Homo sapiens: one gene and its partners. The protein of the gene in region 1 purifies or fractionates together with the protein of each later gene. This does not show direct contact. Each region holds a gene or a part of one and is shown in the gene's direction. Other genes may lie near its edges.

Region 1 (3,864 bases):
TCACTCTCATCACTCTTCCAACTGCCAGAACTCACCTTACCTTGAAGTTGAAGCTGATTCAGTGTCAATTAAAAGGATTCAGTTACAACTGGTGGAGGTGGGCAGAATGGCAGAGGATGTAAAGGGAAAACAAAGCAAAACAAAACAAACCTGTGCAGAAGATGCTGAAAGAGGGAGAGAAATAAAAGAGGATAATATAGCAAACATCACCTCCACCCGTTCTTTCCATATATCCATTTAATCCTCACAATAATATTGTGTGGGCTCTTTAGCTTTAGCTCCCCACTCTACAGATGAGAATACCGAGGGCACAGAAGTGAGGAATTTGCCTAAGTAGACAAAGAATCAGTGGCAGCACCAGGCATTGGATCCAGACAGTCTGGCACTTGGGCCCTTGCTCTTACCCACTGCACCAGGCTGAGCATGGGAGGGTGGAGGCCCAGAAAATGTCAAGGTGAGTCTGGACTGGGCCAGTGGCCGGCAAAGGTGGGCAGAGGCTCCCTGAGTCACCACCCTCCTCTCCCCCAGCTGAGCAACTCACCGTAGTGGGGAAGATTTCCTTCAATCCCAAGGACGTGCTGGGCCGCGGGGCAGGCGGGACTTTCGTTTTCCGGTGAGTGGCAGCCAGGAGCCAAGCTGGGGACATGGCACTCACAGCCCTCGTGGGCACTGTCCCCTGGAGAGACATTCTTTCAAAGACTCCCCGAGGTGGGTACAGGTTGATCCCTCACTCGCCAGTCCTGCTCTTTCCTTTATCTGTTTTTTTTTTTTTTTTTTTTTTTTTGAGTCTTGCTCTGTTGCCCAGGCTGGAGGGCAGTGGTGCAATCTCAGCTCACTGCAACCTCCGCTTCCCAGGTTCAAGCAATTCCGGGCCTCAGCCTTCCCAGTAGCTGGGATTACAGGTGTGTATCACCATGCCCGGCTAATTTTTATATTTTTTTTAGTAGAGATGGGGGTTTCACCATGTTGGCCAGGCTGGTCTCGAACTCCTGACCTCAAGTGACCCGCCCGCCTTGGCCTCCCAAAGTGCTAGGATTACAGGTGTGAGCCACCATGTTTGTCCCTTTATCTGCTTTCCCTGAATGCCCCCCTGCCCCCGCCATCACCCACTTTCCAGGGGACAGTTTGAGGGACGGGCAGTGGCTGTCAAGCGGCTCCTCCGCGAGTGCTTTGGCCTGGTTCGGCGGGAAGTTCAACTGCTGCAGGAGTCTGACAGGCACCCCAACGTGCTCCGCTACTTCTGCACCGAGCGGGGACCCCAGTTCCACTACATTGCCCTGGAGCTCTGCCGGGCCTCCTTGCAGGAGGTGAGTTGCATTGCGGTTCAGGGAGGGTGAGTGGGAAGGTCCGGGCTGGAGAGTGATGCTTTGGCCCTTGCTGCTGCTCAGTACGTAGAAAACCCGGACCTGGATCGCGGGGGTCTGGAGCCCGAGGTCGTGCTGCAGCAGCTGATGTCTGGCCTGGCCCACCTGCACTCTTTACACATAGGTACCCGCACTTCCCCTGCCTCCCGCTCCCTGTCCTTAGCCCCTGCCTTCCGCCCTCAGCAACCAGCTTTCTTTCTGCCCCTCTCCCACAGTGCACCGGGACCTGAAGCCAGGAAATATTCTCATCACCGGGCCTGACAGCCAGGGCCTGGGCAGAGTGGTGCTCTCAGACTTCGGCCTCTGCAAGAAGCTGCCTGCTGGCCGCTGTAGCTTCAGCCTCCACTCCGGCATCCCCGGCACGGAAGGCTGGATGGCGCCCGAGCTTCTGCAGCTCCTGCCACCAGACAGTCCTGTGAGTCTATCCACCAAGTCCTCCAGGCACACAGCTGCCCCAGGCTGCAGGAATCCGTCCCTGTCCCAGTTCCCCTCCTGAGGAGACTCCATGACACTTGCTGTGTGACTTTGAGCTGCTCCTCCAAGCTTGTTTCCCTTAAAGAAGGGATAATTTGTCCCTCCTTCTACAGCAGTATCAGGACTGTTTTGCCACCCAGGGGACATTAGGCAATGTCTGGAGACATTTTTGACTGCCATGACTTGGGAGGGAGGGGCTACTGGCATCTGCTGGAAATGCTGCTAAATGTCTTACAGGACAGGACAACACCCAACACAAAGAACTAACAAAATGCCAGTTGTGCTGAGGTTGGGAAACCCTGAGCTAGAAAATGGTTTGTAATCTTCACTGTGCTTCACAACCACTGCGCAACTTAAAAAAAGAATGCCCATTGCCGGGTGCGGTGGCTCACGCCTGTAATCCCAGCACTTTGAGAGGCCGAGGCAGGCAGATTGCTTGAGCTCAGGAGTTCGAGACCAGCCTGGGTAACCTAGGGAGACCTCGTCTCTACCAAAAGCACACACAATTTAGCCGGTGTGGGTGTGTGCATCTGTGGTCCCAGCTACTTGGGAGGCTGAGGTGGGAGGATCGCTTGAGCCTGGGAGGTGGAAGTTCCAGAGTCAAGATCACACTACTGCACTCTAGCCTGGACAACAGAGTGAGACTCTTTCTCTCAAAAAACAAAAAACAAACAAACAAACAAAACCCCAGGCCCCACACCCCGTGATTTTTACCTAATTGCCTGGGTCATTTTTATGTGGAGCCAAGTTCCAGAACCACTGGTATCGAAGGTTTTGGAGGGCATCAGATGAGCTAATTAGTTGATACACAGAGCAGCGTCTGACCCACACAGACACTTGCGTTTGGGACCCCTGAATTACGGATTTTGAGTCACAGTGTGTGGGCGGAAGTTGAAGCCAGAGAAATGGATGCCAATCACACAAAAGGACAGTCACCAGGGAAGGCTGCCCCCACTCCTAAAGTTGAGAGAAAGCTCAAAGTGGTGAGCAGGGCTCAAGGACTAAATGCATGATGTCATGAGACTATACAGTTTATATTTAAATTAGTGGCCTATATATATATATATTTTTTTTTTTTTGAGATGGAGTTTCGCTCTTGTTGCCCAAGCTGGAGTGCAGTGACATGATCTCAGCTCACTGCAACCTCCACCTCCTGGGTTCAAGTGATTCTCCTGCCTCAGCCTCCCTAGTAGCTGGGACTATAGGCAGGTGCCACCATGCCCAGTTAATTTTTGTATTTTTAGTAGAGATGGGGTTTATGCCATGTTGGCCAGGCTGGTCTCGAACTCCCAGCCCTCAGGTGATTCACCTACCTCGGCCTCCCAAAGTGCTGAGATTATAGGCATGAGCCACTGTGCTTGGCCCTATATATATATATTTTTGAGACAGGGTCTTGCTCTGTCATGGAGTGCAGTCATACCATCACAGCTTACTGCAGCCTTAAACTCCTGGGCTCAAGGGATCCTCTCACCTCAGCCTCCCAAGTAGCTGGGACTACAGGCACACAACATGGCACCCAGCTAATTTTTGTATTTTTTTGTAGAGGCAGGGTCTCACCATGTTGCCCACGCTGGTCTTGAACTCCTGGCCTCCCAAAGTGCTGGGATTACAAGGTGTCAGCCACATGCCTGGCCCAATATTTTAACATTTGAGAAATTCCACATAAAATTTGGATTTCTGGATTTTCTTTAAAAAAAAAAAAAATCAGAATCGCTTGAGGCCAAAAGTTCAAGATCGGGCTGGGTAACATAAGAAGACCCATCTCTACAAACAATTTAAAAATTGGTCAGGCATGGTGGCACATGCCTGTAGTCCCACCTACTCAGGCCGAGGTAGATTGCTTGAGCCCAGGAGTTTGAGGTTACAGTGAGCTGTGGTTGCGCCACTGCACTCTAGCCTGGGCAACATGAGCAAAGCCCCAACAAAAAAAAAAACAAAATCAGCTCTGCCACCCTGGAGAGTCCCCTGGTGACAACCGGTTGAAGCTAAGGACCAGCTGCCCCTGCAGAAAAAACCCATGCCAGGT
Region 2 (3,633 bases), on another chromosome or scaffold:
TGGGATTACAGGCGTGAGCCACCGCACCTGGTCTGTGCTAGAGTTTTTAATGTGTAGTTTTGGTTTTTTAAGAGTTGCATTGATTTGTTTACTGTGTTATTCACATTATAGTTGATTGATATTTCAGAAATAGAAGTAACTGTTCCTCAGAAATAACATTTTGGTGTTTTGAAGAGAGCTAACTGGACTTTTCTTCTTGTCCTAGGGCTACTTTCAGCTGAAAGCCAACCCAGGAGCTTGGATCCTCAGACTTAGGAAGGGACGCTCTGAAGATATTTATAGAATTTACAGGTAGGAGTAAGTGATGCAGTTACATTATCCCAGAACTTTTAGAAATGAGCATTAGCTCTAATTGAATACTACCCTGGCAGTTAGCCAGGCAACATGAATTTAATTTGCAGTTGTATGTGATGAAACAGTGGTTTTTCCAGGAAATTAAATATGGAAGAATTGTTAGAATAGAATTAGATAATAAGAGGTATAGATGCTAATGAGTATAGTCAGGCTTTATTCTTTAATTATTCCTTTGTGCTAACAATATCCCAGAATCAAATCATTCTATCAGTGTGATGCGGCTCATAGATAGGCAGATGAGAAACTTGAAGAAAGGAGAAAAGAAAGAAAGAACAGCCACACTTTTCTGCCCAGAGAGTGTATGTGTTGACCCTGAGTGATTTGCAAATGCACAGTACATGGAAGCTTTGGTCTTGAAGCTGTGCTGTTAGTGCTGGTATTCCTTGGTCTGTGGTGGCATAGTAAGAACATTCCCTCTATAGCCAGCTTTTACCTTAAGGTTTACTGCACATATTTATTAGTTTAAAAATAATTATGTTGCCTTTAAAAAAGTTTGATATAAATTCTGCTTAACACAATTTAAATTAGTTTTAAACTGTGTGAAGAGGCTTCCCGTCAGGTTGTGTAGGGGATGATTTCCATTAGGGCACATTTGAAGCACTCTGTAGTATGTCCTTGCCTTAATTAGCTCCGTAGCGACACACATGAAACAGTGGATTAGTGCCTGGTTCTTACCCAGGAAATAGAAGAATTCTGTATTATAATAACACCATTGTAAACAGTAGAAGGTTTTTTCCCACATAACATTTTCCTCAGATAAGGTTTTACAAAATTTGGGATGCACTTCCGAACTCCTTCCCTTTTGGATGCCCTGGCCCTTGCCAGCCCTCCCCTTCCCAGGAGCATGGTGCCCCCTCTTCCTAGCTGTTCAGGGCCCCACCCCCATTAGAATCTTCCTTTGCCTGAGAACCCTACTCTCTGCTAGATGACAGCAAATGCAGTGAATTCATGTTGTAATTATGACTTTCTGCACCTTGAAATTTGGTGACTGGAAATTTTAGGCATTGCTGTTGATTAGTAGGGAAACATACATTTAATTTTTCTTCCTCTGCTCCTGTCTGCCTGCAAATAGAATTTGTTACAGTTTTTCTGGTAGCGTATAGACACCAGGTTGAGTACAGGGCCTATTGTTGACTGATTGTTGCCTCCGGCAGAAAGAGCGAGCAGATTTCCTTTACAACACTATTCCAGTTAAAGAGTAGTGGCCGGGAGTGATGGGTGATGGCTCACGCCTGTAATCCCAACACTTTGGGAGGCCGAGGAGGGTGGATCACTTAAGGTCAGGAGTTTGAGACCAGCCTAGCCACTATGGTGAAACCCTGTCTCTACTAAAATACAAAAATTAGCCAGGCGTGGTGGTGGGTGCCTGTAAACTCAGCTACCTGAAGGCTGAAGCAGGAGAATCACTTGAACCCCGGAGGTGGAGGTTGCATTGAGCCGAGATTGCTCTACTGCACTCCAGGGCAACAGAGCAAAACTCTGTCTCAAAAAAAAAAAAAAAAAAAAAAAAGAGCGGAGGCAGTGTGGTTCCAATAATGGTTCAGGGGGCCTGTTCCCTGCATTCCTTTATCGAAGGCTCTGTGCTTGGCTCAGAGCTTGTGAACACAGGCGGTTGTTTAGTACTCACCATGTGGTTACCACACATGGGTGCCTCTCACTACGTGATGGGTAATTTGCAAGAGGACTCACAAAGGAGGTTTGGGCATGCACCTTATATAAAGAGAGGTTTCAACACGTGCTTCTGTGCAGCTCGAAGGAGCTTAAGGAGCAAGAAGATAGCTGGATCTGGAAAACTCCTTTATGAGAAGGATGATGGACTCAGATGCTCTGAGAGCATTTGCTGCCTTTTGAGAATTGTGCCTTGTAATATTGATCTTTCTTTTCTCGCAAAGCCACGATGGCACTGATTCTCCCCCTGATGCTGATGAGGTGGTTATCGTCCTCAACAACTTCAAAAGCAAAATTATTAAAGTGAAGGTGAGTTTGGTAAAAGTAGTGGCATTCTGTTATTGGACAGCTGTCATTTAAAAATATGTATCTTGGAACCAGCCCAAGAGTCTCTTTGGAATTTGCTATGGCAATTATAGGGATACTGCTTTAAGGCAAAATGTCTTTGTAACTGTGAGTTTGTGGCTTCCCTCAACTGAAAGATTGTACCTTTTGGGTAATCTCGGTGTGCAGAACATGTCCCATCTTATATAAAATATTCTCATAGATGCTATGTTGTTTATATAGCCACAATTCATAGTGTTGTTGATGATTCTTTTCTCAATATTGGGGGAACTGGCAATGGAAATTTTCAACAATAATAAAATGATAGTCCTATTTAATTTCTTTTGACTTGTACTTTCCGTTCTCTGAATGTTGAAGCTCTTAGTGCCTTAAATTCAAGTACAGTATATTCTTGAAGAAAGAATCATTACACACAGTGAAACCTAAAATAGGCCATCCATTGTTGAGAAGAAAAATGGTCACTGTACTGCCAAGAAGAAACCCCTGTTTGTGCTAGTGAATCCTGAAAACTGGTCATAACATGAAATACCTCCCTCCCAACAGCTAGAGCCCCCAGCAGCCACACTCTTCCCTGGAACTAGCTGTTGACTCATTGAATCGTGCTTCTGGTTTCACTGCACAGTTGAGTTTGCGGCTCTTTGCCTATGTTGCAAGCTGAAAATGGGGTTCATCTAATTAAAAGAGGTTGCTGTCTCCTCACATAAGGTTATGATGTGAATGTCCTGGCGAAGATACTTCTATTGAATCCTTCTAGACTCTGGGTGGGGTTGTGCCTGTTTGTGAGAGAATTGATTGATAATTCCCTATTGATGACAGGCTCACAGTGTATATCCAGTGAGAGGCAGTTTTATGCCTGTGAGACATACTGGGAGTAAGGTTTATCACATTTGATTGCAGGTTCAGAAGAAGGCAGATATGGTGAACGAAGACTTGCTGAGTGATGGAACGAGTGAGAATGAATCTGGATTTTGGGATTCCTTCAAATGGTAAGTTGACATTGTAAGAGTTATGTTTTTAAGGAAAAACTGAGATATAAGCACCATCCATCCCTCCTTTTTGCATCTTGTGATTCTGTCTGGGCCTTTCACATTCTACTTTGTGCAGCTACATCTCACACTTATATTTGGCATAGATGAGTATTTTCCACTCGATTGATCCAAAAGAGGTTCATGTCTCCTAGTGGGGAAGTTACTTCTGCTCCATACTTTGTGACTCTCATTGCCTGTACCTGCTCTTTGGAAATTTGACTGCTCCCTGCTCAGTTTA
Region 3 (3,633 bases), on another chromosome or scaffold:
CAGATCAGAGGAAGATGCTCTGCCTGTTCTCCTTTCAGTCCATATAAAATAGAGCTGTGAACATTCTTTGTTTTCAGATGAGAGCCTAAAACCTCCATGAAGCCTTTGCTGCTGTTCCTAGTAAATAGCTTGACTTAAAATACATTGATCAGTGTTTTCTTCTTTTTTTTTTTGAGACAGTTTCACTCTGTCGCCCAGGCTGGAGTGTTGTGGCTTGAACAAGGCTCACTGCAGCCTCAACCTCCCTGGCTCAAGCGATCTTCCCACCTCAGCCTCCCGAGTAGTTGGGACTACAGGCACGCACCACCACGACCGGCATTTTTTTTTTGGTGATGGGGTATCGCTGTGTGTTGCCCAGGCTGGTCTCAAACTGCTGAACTCGAGTGGTCCTCCTACCTCCCAAAGTGCTCGGCTTACAGGTGTGAGCCACTGCACCTGGCCAGTGTTTTCTTCTTTTATCTGAATATCAGAAAGATTTCCAAGAGACCAAAATAATATACATCTGCAAAGATGTGTGGATTGGCCAGGCACGGTGGCTCACGCCTGTAATCCCAGCACTTTGGGAGGCCGAGGCGGGTGGATTATGAGGTCAGGAGATCAAGACCATCCTGGCTAACATGGTGAAACCCCATCTCTACTGAAAAGACAAAAAATTAGCCTGGCATGGTGGCAGGTGCCTGTAGTCCCAGCTGCTCAGGAGGCTGAGGCAGGAGAATGGCATGAACCTGGGAGGCGGAGCTTGCAGTGAGCCGAGATCGCACCACTGCACCCCAGTCTGGGCGACAGAGCAAGACTCCGTCTCAAAAAAAAAAATGTGTGGATTAAACTACAGAGTCCTCCCCTTTGGTTTAATTTTTCCTTTGATTGGCTAAACTTATCTGTTTGTTCATGAGGGTGGTGCTGACAAGAAGAAAGACTGATAGAAAGAAAAGAACTTTCCTAAAGATATAGTCCTTGAATTTTTGCCTTAAGAGGCCAGGTTAACTATTCAAGTTTGTATCTACTATGTTTTATTTAAAAACTGATGGAGGTTTTTGCCCCTTTCTTTTCTGTAAGAGGTTTCTTGGCAATTCTGCCTGTTGTTGAAAGTGTTGGAATCCAGTCTGTGCCTTGTAAAGCTGCTTTAAGTTTCCTGGGAGTTTCCATTCCAGGCACAGTTACGGCTCCAGTTCAAAGGTAACATCTTGCTGGTGGTCCTTTCAGACCTTAAGCCAGTCACAGTACAAAAACGGAGACCTATGAAGAGGTGTGATAAAAGGCATTTAGATGAATATATTTATTTTGCAGTGCTTTTTAAAAAAATGATTGTGTCACTTTTTATTTATTTATTTTTTTAAAATAGAGACCGTCTTGCTCTGTTGCCCAGGCTGGACCGCGGTGGTATAATCATAGCTCACTGCAGCCTCGAACTCATGGACACAAGTGATCTTCCTTCCTTAACCCCCTGAGTCCCTGGGACTACAGGTGTGTGCCACCATGTCTGGCTAACTTTCTTCTTTTGTAGAGACAAGGTCTTGCTATGTTGCCCAGGCTGGTCTCGACCTCCTGGGCTCTGGCAGTCCTTCCACCTTGACCTCCCAAAGTGCTGGGATTACAGGCATGAGCCACTGCACCCAGCCTATTTTGCAGCTTTTATAACTATACTTCATAATGCTCTTTCATCAAAGAAAATGGAAGAATGAATTTTAAACTTTTGTATCCCTTTTGAAATTTAAAATTAACATGTATGGAAAGTATGATATAAAGTTTTCCTTTTTTTTTTTTTTTTTTGAGCTAGGGACTCACTGTGTCACCCAGGCTGAAGGGTAGTGGTGCTGTCATAGCTCACGACAGCCTCAACCTCCCAGGCTGACGCAATCCTCCTGCCTCAGCCTCCTGAGTAGTTGGGACTACAGGTGTGCACCACCATGCCTGGCTGATTTTTGTATTTTTTGTAGAAACGAGATCCCCCTGTTGCTCAGGCTGGCCTCGAATTCCTGGGCTCAAGTGGTCCTCCCGCCTTGGCCTCTTAAAGTGTTGGGAGTACAGGCGTAAGCCACCATATCTGGCCAGTTTTTCTTTCTTAATAGAAGAGTTGGCTCTTCCTGGATCTAGGGATGGTTTACAGGAAAACATTGAGTATCTGTGGGTCTGGTAGCATATCACAGCAGTGGTCAGGTTCCGCACTGTCCCTGTTGTTGTGGCGCGGGTCTGCGGCAGCAATGGGCCCTGTGAGTAGAGGATCCCAGGGGAGGGAGTGGCCATCTAGACATACTCCATCAGCTCGCAGCCAGGCCATCCAGGGTTCTCACTCTGTCCCCTGCCCCCCAGAACAGTTCCTCAGGGACAGGTGTTCTCTGCTGGGGTGGGGTGTAGGGGAGAGAGAGTCCTTGGGATTTAAGTGACATAAAATCATGTTCAATGTTTCTCTTTTTCCTTAGTTTTCCTGATTGCAGCTAGGACTTTGAATATATGGATTTTATGCTGATTTTCTCTTTTTCTTTTCCAGCTCCAATTAAGGAACAGCTATATCCTGCTTCCTTCTGTAAGCAGCATCGACTTGTGCAAGGGTTCAGTCATGCAGCCACCGCCCCAGACGGTCCCGTCTGGCATGGCTGGGCCACCTCCAGCCGGGAATCCTCGGAGCGTGTTCTGGGCTAGCAGCCCTTACAGGAGACGGGCTAATAATAATGCAGCAGTGGCTCCGACAACTTGCCCGTTGCAGCCGGTCACGGATCCATTTGCTTTTAGTAGACAGGCGCTCCAAAGTACACCACTGGGCAGTTCGTCCAAAAGCAGTCCACCTGTCTTGCAAGGCCCAGCCCCCGCAGGGTTTTCTCAGCACCCCGGTTTGCTTGTTCCTCACACACATGCCAGAGATAGCTCTCAGGGACCCTGTGAGCCCCTGCCTGGACCTCTGACACAGCCCAGAGCACATGCCAGTCCGTTTTCTGGTGCATTGACACCTTCAGCACCTCCTGGGCCTGAGATGAACAGGAGTGCAGAGGTCGGTCCCAGTTCAGAGCCTGAAGTTCAGACTCTGCCATATCTTCCTCACTACATTCCAGGAGTGGATCCTGAAACGTCTCATGGGGGCCACCCTCATGGGAACATGCCTGGGCTCGACCGACCCCTGAGCAGGCAAAACCCACATGACGGTGTGGTCACCCCAGCAGCATCCCCTTCCCTCCCTCAGCCTGGTCTGCAGATGCCAGGACAGTGGGGGCCAGTGCAGGGAGGCCCACAGCCCTCGGGGCAACATCGTTCACCCTGCCCTGAAGGACCTGTTCCCAGCGGGGTGCCCTGTGCCACCAGCGTTCCTCATTTCCCCACCCCGTCCATCCTACATCAGGGCCCTGGTCATGAGCAACACAGCCCTCTGGTGGCTCCCCCAGCAGCCTTGCCCAGTGACGGAAGAGACGAGGTGAGCCACTTGCAAAGTGGAAGCCACCTGGCCAATAACTCTGATCCTGAAAGTACATTCAGGCAAAATCCCAGAATTGTGAATCACTGGGCAAGCCCAGAGCTCAGGCAGAATCCAGGAGTGAAGAATGAGCACCGGCCCGCCTCTGCTCTTGTGAACCCCCTCGCCCGGGGAGATAGCCCAGAAAACCGTACGCACCACCCACTGGGGGCTGGGGCCGGGTCTGGCTG
Region 4 (3,633 bases), on another chromosome or scaffold:
CAATCAAAATTCAGTCAGTAGTGGATTGACTAAATGGTTCAGCCATTAAAAATGGTTACATTGGAGTAATTTTAAAATTCTTAAGTAGAAAATATCTGTAACTTACTCTTTTGCTTTTCCATTTTTGAAAATTTCACAATAGGCTCAGTGTACTGAGCAAGTACCAAATTCATATCGATTTTACAAAAAAGATAAAGTTCTTTAAAAGTAGTACATCTCTGTAGAAGATTATCCTATTTTTTGGGTTTTTTTTTTTTTTTTTTTTTTTTTTTGAGACCGGGTCTTGCTCTGCCTCCCAGGCTCAAGCAATCCTCCCACATCAGCCTCTGGAGTAGCTGCGGCTACAGATGCACCCTACCATACCGAGCTAATTTTTGCATTTTTGTATTTCATATTTTTTCTCTACAAGAGATGGAGTTTTGCCATGTTGCCCAGGCTGGTCTCAAACTCCTGGCTCAGGTTATCCACCCGCCTCATCCTCCCAAAGTTCTGGGATTACAGGCCTAAGCCACCACACCCAGCCTTAGTCTTACTTTCAAGCTTATTCAGAGTTAGGACTGTCAGTGCTTATGTTCTTGATTTACTTGGCTTTGTTAAACGTGTCAAACTCTACTTCACCTTTTCTGCAGCAGTGAAAAGATTAATGAGCAGTGCCATCCAATAGAAATATAATGCAAACATATATGTAATTTTAAATTTTCTAGTAGCTACATTTAAAATGGCCAAAAGAAACAGGTGAAATTAATATATTTACTGAGTATATCTAAGATCATTTAAACATGTGTTTTCAAAATGAAAAATAATATTGAGGCCGGGCACGGTGGCTCACGCCTGTAATCCTCGCACTTTGGGAGGCCAAGGTGGGCGGATCACCTGAGGTCAGGAGTTCAAGACCAGCCTGGCCAACATGGTGAAACCCCATCTCTACTAAAATACAAAAATTAGCCGGGCATGATGGCTGATGCCTGTAATCCTGAGACGGGAGAATCGCTTGAACCCAGGAGACAGTGGTTGCAGTGAGCCAAGATTGCACCACTGCACTCCAGCCTGGGCAGCTGAGTGAGACGCCGTCTCAAAAAAAAAGAAAAATAATGAGATTACATTTTTCCCTCCATTAAGTCTTCAGAATTCAGTGTGTTTTTACCAGCATATCTTAGTTTGGGGTAGCCACATGTAGCTAGTGGCTATCATGCTGGATAACCTGTTACTGAGAGAGCAGCCCCGCTTTGGTTAGCCTGGCATCCATTCACAGGCATCCTTTCCCACCTCTTGAAATGGAAAAGGAGATCATCCTATCAAAGGCTACTCCATCACTGACTGGGTTCCCGCTCCTCTTCTGACTCTGGGCATTTTATTCAGATACTCCCTGTATTTTATCTTTGGCCTCTCCCACTGCATATGTCTTCCTCTCCTAGATCACTCCCATCTTCAAAGAAAACCTTCCTTGTTTTCTACATTTGCCTGCCTCTGGTCTCTATAATGAAACCTGCTTAAAGAGTTACCTATATTCTCTCCAACCTTCTGCAGACTGCATGCCTGTTATTTTCACTCCACCACAACTGCCAGGGCTCCCAGTGACTTCTTTGTCACTAAATCCAATCAGTAGATGGTTTTAAGTCTTTGCTACTTTATCTCCCAGTAGCATTTGTTAGTGTGGCCCCTTCCACATGTATCTTGGTTTATGTGACACCACTCTGGATAATTCTCCCAATCCACCTTCCACATGGCAACTGGAATACTCCTTCTAGAAAGCATAAATCTATTCTTTCCTCTGAATGATAACCCTTTAGTGGCTTCACTATTAGTAAAATTAACAGTTTTATAAGTTCTTACAGTATTGGCTATATCTGTGATTCAAATGCAGTGTAAATCTTGAATACCATAATTGTTCATTCATACCTATAGCGTACAGAACCACTTTATCTTGAGCACTAAAAAGACAGCATGGTGTAATAGGAAAAGCTTGGAAATGGAGAGCTGCCCTGCCCCTTATATGTATGACCATAGATGGGCCATTTGGTCTAGACCTTTATTTACAAAATGGGGATAAGTCCTACTTTCTAGTTAGTAATGCTGTCAAAAATTAAGTGATCTAACATTTGATAGTGATTTGAAAAATTGAACGTGTTGTATGATGGAGGATTTAGCAGTAAAACAATGAACAATGGTGTACACTCCTTCCAGAAAAAGTGTACCATTTAGTTATTCCAAAAAGGTCCATTTGAAATCTTCCAAATTCTAATTGTGAAGCAAGCATGTGAAAATGTAACTAAGATGGCATGTACACACACTACTTGAGAACACAGGCCAGTCTCACTTATAATTTGCTATATCAACAAATTAAAAGGAAGAAATGATATGATCAACTTCAGAGATGCTGAAAAGACAGGAATAGATAGAAATTTCGTTAACATTGTAAGTACATTTTGGCCTGGCGTGGTCACTCATACCTGTAATCCCAGCACTTTGGGAGGCAGAGGCAGGAGGATCACTTGAGACCAGCCTGGGCAACACAGGGAGACCCTGTCTCTACAAAAAATTTAAAAGTTAGCCAGGGATGCACCTGTAGTCCCAGCTACTGGGGGTGCTGAGGTGGGAGGATCACTTGAGCCCAGGAGGTCAGGGCTGCTGCAGGGAGCTGTGTTTGCACCATTGCACTCCAGTCTGGGTGACAGATCAAGACCCTCTCTCAAAAAAAATTAAAAAGTGTATTTATTTCAATCCAAAAGCCAGCATGATGCAAATAGGAAAACCTTGTTGAAGTCAAGAATAGTCTGAGGATATTCCATTATTTACCTTGTTCTAGAGGTAATCAGCAAATTTTTGTATATTGTCATGTGTTGCTTAACATTAGAGACGTGATCTGAATTATGATCAACTTCAGAGATGCTGAAAAGACAGGAATAGAAATTTCTTTAATTGCTATTGTATCAGACGATTTCTTCATTGTGAATAACATCAGTGTGTACTTAATACAAACCTAGATGGCATAACTTACTAAAAACCTAGGCTACATGGTATAGCTTATTTCTCTTAGGTTATAAATCTGTTCGGCATGTTACTGTACTGAATATTGTATGCAGTTGTAACACAATGGCAAGCATTTGTGTATCTAAACATAGAAAGGGTGCAGTAAAAATATGATATAAAAGATTAAAATAGTACACCTGTACAGGACATTTACCGTGAATGCAGCTTGCATGACTGGGGGTTGCTCTAAAAATTTTATTTCTTGGATAATAGATTAACCTTAATTTACTGTAACGTTTTTCTTTCTTTCTTTCTTTCTGTCTTTATTTTTTAGGAGATGTGGTTTTGCTATTCTGTGTTGGCCAGCCTGGTTTTGAACTGCTGGCCTCAAGCAGTCCTCCCACTTTGGCCTCCAAAGTGTTGGGATTATAGGTGTGAGCCATGGCATCTGGTCAACATTTTACTTTCTAAACTTAATTTTTTTTTTTTAACTTTTTGGCTCTTGTAAAAACACTTACCTTAAAACGCATTATACAAAACAGCAGTACAAAAATATTTTCTCTCTTTTTTTTTTTTTTTTGAGACAAGGTCTTGCCCTATCAGGCTGGAGTGAGTGGTGCATCACAGCCCACTGCACCCGTAGCCTCGACCTCCCTGGGCTCA

What was found.
Region 2: the proteins of ERN2 (region 1) and UGGT1 purify together in Homo sapiens (affinity purification with mass spectrometry; one large-scale study listed by BioGRID and IntAct). This does not show direct contact.
Region 3: the proteins of ERN2 (region 1) and SEC16A purify together in Homo sapiens (affinity purification with mass spectrometry; one large-scale study listed by BioGRID and IntAct). This does not show direct contact.
Region 4: the proteins of ERN2 (region 1) and PDIA6 purify together in Homo sapiens (affinity purification with mass spectrometry; one large-scale study listed by BioGRID and IntAct). This does not show direct contact.

What each region holds. Positions count from the first base shown.
Region 1 is NC_000016.10:23,692,643-23,696,506, reverse strand, and holds part of ERN2 (serine/threonine-protein kinase/endoribonuclease IRE2 isoform a precursor), read left to right. Parts: intron 1-528; coding exon 529-613; exon of another isoform or gene 614-776; intron 777-1,117; coding exon 1,118-1,307; intron 1,308-1,388; coding exon 1,389-1,488; intron 1,489-1,579; coding exon 1,580-1,779; intron 1,780-3,864. UniProt on the Homo sapiens protein: Induces translational repression through 28S ribosomal RNA cleavage in response to ER stress. Pro-apoptotic. Appears to play no role in the unfolded-protein response, unlike closely related proteins.
Region 2 is NC_000002.12:128,174,568-128,178,200, forward strand, and holds part of UGGT1 (UDP-glucose:glycoprotein glucosyltransferase 1 precursor), read left to right. Parts: intron 1-205; coding exon 206-291; intron 292-2,246; coding exon 2,247-2,331; intron 2,332-3,264; coding exon 3,265-3,353; intron 3,354-3,633. UniProt on the Homo sapiens protein: Recognizes glycoproteins with minor folding defects. Reglucosylates single N-glycans near the misfolded part of the protein, thus providing quality control for protein folding in the endoplasmic reticulum.
Region 3 is NC_000009.12:136,476,540-136,480,172, reverse strand, and holds part of SEC16A (protein transport protein Sec16A), read left to right. Parts: intron 1-1,342; 5' UTR 1,343-1,464; intron 1,465-2,488; 5' UTR 2,489-2,557; coding exon 2,558-3,633. UniProt on the Homo sapiens protein: Acts as a molecular scaffold that plays a key role in the organization of the endoplasmic reticulum exit sites (ERES), also known as transitional endoplasmic reticulum (tER).
Region 4 is NC_000002.12:10,806,285-10,809,917, reverse strand, and holds part of PDIA6 (protein disulfide-isomerase A6 isoform d precursor), read left to right. Parts: intron 1-3,633. UniProt on the Homo sapiens protein: May function as a chaperone that inhibits aggregation of misfolded proteins. Negatively regulates the unfolded protein response (UPR) through binding to UPR sensors such as ERN1, which in turn inactivates ERN1 signaling.